Linked DNA regions of Homo sapiens: region 1 is linked to region 2. Evidence: fine-mapped expression QTL. Tissue or cell type: whole blood. Region 2 holds a variant in brackets; the other region holds the start of a gene. All regions are shown on one strand. Distances are from middle to middle.

Region 1 (2,500 bases), 69 kb before region 2:
AGAAAAAAAAAAATTGATGGAGAGTTAACTTTTGGTTTACAATGTAAATGTTTATTTAAAAACAGACATTATTTTATGTACCATTACAAATATACTGCTACCCAGCTGCTCGGGAGGCTGAGGCAGGAGAATGCTTGAACTCGGGAGGCGGAGGTTGCAGTGAGCCGAGATCGCACCATTGCTCTCCAGCCTGGGCGACAGAGCGAGACTCCATCTCAAATAAAACAAAAACAAACAAATATACTGCCAACTAAACTGTGATTTTGTCAAAAATAAATGTTGTTGATGACTTTACTTCCATTAAAGCCACTGTAGTAGCCAAGGGAAAGCTTCCTTTTTGTCCTCTGAAGGTTCACTGAAAAGTCAACTGACAAAAGGCACATTAATTGGAGAAAGGGCATACAAATTTATTAACATGCACATGGGGGAGAACCAGAGTGATTTTGCTGAAGCCCCAAATGGGGTTCAGAAACTTATATACCATCTTGAGGTTACAGAATGGGGGTTTGGATTGTGGCATAACAGGTTATGCGGGTGGAGACCTGGCTGACAACCACGGTCTTGTTATGTAAATGAAACCTCCTAAGTAGAACTCCTTAAAGAGAACAGGTGGTACATGTTTCTTTCAGACCTTTGCAAACCAACAGTAAAATTCTAAACCCTCCAACCGACTGATGGACCCTCTGCTTGCCCAAGGGCATTCTGAAGTTAACCTGAAAAACTAGTTCAGGCAATGATGGGAAGTGGGGGTTGGCCATGCCTCATTATACACTCCTCCCTTGGAATTCAGGTACAGCAAGCCAGCACTAACATTAAAACAGAGACCTTAAGACTGACAGAAAAGACTCTTCTGCAGAGGCTTCTTCATTACTCTCAGGCACACAGGATTCTTGGTTTCCGCTGTAGGGTCCTCACTTTACCTGTTCAACCTTCATTTGTCTTTCACTGCCTACTCTTGGTTAGCACTCGGCCAGCGCACAGGTTTCCCACACCCTGAGGTGGACACCAGCAGGGAAGGTTTGCGGGAGGGCTCTGCCTCCCTGGCGGCCACCCGCAGGCCCACAGCAAGACATGTGCAGAGGTGAGCGGAGCGCCGTCACCAGCTGCCACTCTCCCAAAGACCAGAACCATCCCAGAGCACCCGGAGGCACCAGGAAAGCGGCTCGGAGGCAGAGGCGCCAGGGGCGGGGCTGATGCCGAGAGGTTTCCTCTGCCCCGTTCCCTCGCATTGGTCCTGCAACCGCTCCCGTCAGACGCGTTTCCGCCTCCTGTCCTCCGGAAAGGTGCCCGCCTCTTGCCTTCCGGCCCGGCGCCCGATTTCCGCCTTCCGACCCAGCTGTGGGCTGCGCCCCACGCCAGCCCGCGCCCCGCATGGCTGCCGCCGGGGCCAGGCCTGTGGAGCTGGGCTTCGCCGAGTCGGCGCCGGCGTGGCGACTGCGCAGCGAGCAGTTCCCCAGCAAGGTGGGCGGGCGGCCGGCATGGCTGGGCGCGGCCGGGCTGCCGGGGCCCCAGGCCCTGGCCTGCGAGCTGTGCGGCCGCCCGCTCTCCTTCCTGCTGCAGGTGTATGCGCCGCTGCCTGGCCGCCCGGACGCCTTCCACCGCTGCATCTTCCTCTTCTGCTGCCGCGAGCAGCCGTGCTGTGCCGGCCTGCGAGGTGAGCCGCCAAACGGGGTCGGGACGGGGCCATGCCTCCGACGCGTGCGCGGCGTTAATTCCGGGAGCGACCAGGGGGACGGCGGCAAGCACCGCTGCCGCCCCAGCCTCAGAGCTCCCTCTCCGCGCTGCCCCAGGAGCACCTTCTCCCGGGCCCTTCCAGGATGTGCTCATTTTTGCTACATAAGCTTCTAACTGTGCCCACGCGCATTGGTAACCCCCAGCTTTTAATCAGTGGGTACCAGGTATGGTGTTAATTCAGATAATAGAAATTGTCTTGGAAAGATGGATCCCAGTAGCTTTTTCGTATTTTTGGCAGTCGTTCTTAACGATCAGTCTTATTAATTTGATTAACTCAAACCACCTCTAGGAGGCAACTCAGTTGCGTGTACCGGACGAAATCTAGTTTCTGGATTTTAAAAGCTTATTCCTGAAAGCAAAAACTTTCATTTCTTTTTTGTTGTTGTTATTTTCAGTTTTACGTGCAGAGGATAAAATATGTGAATTGCTGTTTTGTTTGAAGATAAAACTTTTCTCTGTATTCTTTTTTAGTTTTTAGGAATCAACTACCCAGGAAAAACGATTTTTACTCATATGAGCCACCTTCTGAGAATCCTCCCCCAGAAACAGGAGAATCAGTGTGTCTCCAGCTTAAGTCTGGTGCTCATCTCTGCAGGGTTTGTGGCTGTTTAGGCCCCAAAACGTGCTCCAGATGCCACAAAGCATATTACTGCAGCAAGGAGCATCAGACCCTAGACTGGAGATTGGGACATAAGCAGGCTTGTGCACAACCAGGTGGGTAATCTTTTTTTTAAGTCTCAGTTCAGTTTCATCGCCTTTGTCAACC
Region 2 (2,760 bases):
GGGGCCACAGTGGGCAGGCCTGGACTGGGCAGGTCTGCCTACAGGTCCACCAATGGCAAGCACAAGCATCCTTTTACTTTCAATCTCCCTGTATCATTGTATTTGAAGTGAGTTTCTTATAAACAGTGTATATTTGGGTCATGCTTTAATTCACTCTGCCAATCTCTTCCTTTTAACTGGTTTATTTAGAGCACTTACATTTAATGAAATTGTTGATACATTAGGTCTGAAGTTGCCATCTTTTTTTAAATTTTCTGCTATTTCCCTCTGTTTTGTTTTTCTGTTATCCCTACCTTCCTATATATTTCTTGAATATTTTTGTTTTACAATTCCACTTTGATTTATGTATTGCACTGTTTAGTTTATCTCTTGGTATCGCTTTTCTACTTATTACACAAAACACGGTCTATCTGTGTTAGCATTTTACCAGCTCCCGTGAAAAGTAGGAAAAAAGGTGACCTCCTTTATGTCACCTCACCCTCCTCATTTATAATTTAATAATCATAAATATTTGATATTAATAATATGTTTAATGTAATTGTCTGAAATATTTCCTCCATGTGTATTTACAACCACATCAGTTAGGGTTATAATTTTTGCTTCAACTATCAAACATAATTTAGAATATTCAAGAGGAGAAGGAAAATGTATTTTTTAATCTATATTTTTACTATTTTCCTTGTTCTTTCTTTTTTCCTAATGATTGAGAACATGTCTCAGAGCGTCTGAGGAATGTGAGATATGAATTTTTTTTTTGAGAGAGACAGGGCCTTACTCTGTCACCCACACTGTAGTGGAGTACAGTGGCATGATCATAACTTATTACAGCCTTGAACTCATGGGCTCAAGTGGTCCTCCTGCCCCAGCCTCCTGCGTAACCAGGACTACAGACATGCACCGTCATGTCAAGTAATTTTTAAATCAATCTTTCCTTCTTTTCTTTTTTTCTTTCTTTCGTGGAGACAGGATCTTGATCTTACTGTGTTGCCCAGGGCGGTCTTGAACTCCCATTCTCAAGTGACCCTCTCACCTCAGCCTCCGAAAGTGCTAGGATTATAGGCATGAAACACCATGCCTGGCCTGATATGGAAAATGTATCAGA[C/T]GCAGAGAGACATAAACATGAGACTCTAATCATGTCCTCTGCAGCCATACCTGGGGGCAAGTTTTTAAAGGCATTTTGATTTTTTTTCCCTTTCTTCTAGTTTCCAGGCTAGCTGATAAATTACCTAAAATGTTACCACAAGTTGCACAATGTAACTCTCATCCATAATCTTCATGTTCATGGAATTTGTGATACAAAGAAAAATGTATAGCCAACCAATCACTTTTGTTATTTTAATAAAGCAAAGTAAATTATTGGTAAACAACTTAAGGACTGCACTTCTTTTTTGCTTTTACAAACCACTTGTAGTTACTGTTAATTGGAGCATGGATCAAGGCAACTTGCATGAGTCTCCTGGGCTTCAGTCCTCAGCTTCAGCCCAGATAAACTCTCTACTTATATTAATTTTGCCTCAGTTTTTTTCCTTTAGGTTAACATGATCCAAGATTCTTTCTTTTATTAGTTCTTATCTGTTTAGAAAACTTCCCTTAGCCATTATTTTAGAGGAGGTCGGCTGGCAACAAATTCTCTTACACTGTTCTTTCATCTGAAAATATCTTCAAGTCCCCTTCATTCACCTTTATATTTTCTCTGAATAAATAATCCTGGGTTGACAATTCTTTTGTTTGAGCACTTGAAAAATGTTGTTACTTCCTTCTGGCTCCCTGGTTTCTGATGAGAAATTCCGTATCATTCAAATTGTTTTCCCTTATAGGTAGATGTTATTTCTCTCATTGCTTTCAATATTTTTTCTTTGTCTTTAGTTTTCAAAAGTTTAGTTATAGCATGCTTTGGCATGGATTTCTTTGGGTTTATCCTATTTGGAGTTCACTCAACATTTTGAATCTGTAGATTTATGTCTTTTGCCAGATTTAGAAAATATTCATCCACTATTTGTTTGACTACTTTTTAAGTCATGCCCTCTTTCTCCTCTCTCTGGGACTCCAATAACATAAATGTTAGACCTTTGATTGTGATCCTGTAGGTCTCCAAGGCTCTGTTTATTTCTTTCTGCAGTTCAGATTAGGTAATTTCTTTTTTTATTTTATTTTATTTCCCTGTTTTAATTCCCTGTTCACCAATTCTTTCCTCTGTCCCCTCCATTCTGCTGTTGAGTCCATCTACTGAGTTTTAAAAACCTTTGTTGTTATTGCATGTCTCAGTTCTAAAATTTCCATTCAGTTATTCTTAATATCCTCTAATTATTTGCTGGAACTTTCTATTTTTCTAATATATTTCAAGTGTTTTTGTATTGCTTGTTGAAGTTTTTTTATTTATTTTTATTTTATTTTATGTATTTATTTTTTTGAGACAGAGTCTTGCCCAGTCACCCAGGCTGGAGTGCAGTGTCGTGATCTCGGCTCACTGCAATCTCCACCTCCTGGGTTCAAGTGATTCTCGTCTCAGCCTCCTGAGTAGCACGTGCCACTATGCCTGGCTAATTTTTGTATTTTTAGTAGAGATGGGGTTTCACCATGTTGGCCAGGCTGGTCTTGAACTCCTGACCTCAAGTGATCTGCCCGCCTTGGCCTCCCAAAGTACTGGGATTACAGCTGTGAGCCACCATGCCCAGCCTGAAGTGTTTTTATGATGGTTGGTCTAAAATCGTTGTCATATAATAATTAATATATCTGCCAGTGTTAGCAGTCCTTGTTGTT

What was found. PIP is the estimated chance that this variant, and not a neighbour inherited with it, causes the effect.
Region 1: it holds the start of PDCD2, and the variant in region 2 is fine-mapped to the expression of PDCD2 in whole blood (TOPMed, PIP above 0.99). The same link has a PIP of 0.9 or more in blood mononuclear cells.

Annotation. Positions count from the first base shown.
Region 1 is chr6:170,583,453-170,585,952 of GRCh38, reverse strand. PDCD2 (programmed cell death 2) reads left to right here and starts at 1,316. Exons shown (of 6, transcript NM_002598.4): 1 at 1,316-1,654; 2 at 2,206-2,448. The coding sequence starts at 1,372. RefSeq lists a silencer at 1,347-1,586.
Region 2 is chr6:170,514,300-170,517,059 of GRCh38, reverse strand. No RefSeq gene overlaps it. Among named protein-coding and RNA genes, the nearest start is that of PSMB1, 38 kb to the left of the region's middle. The variant C/T (reference allele first, on the strand shown) is at 1,103.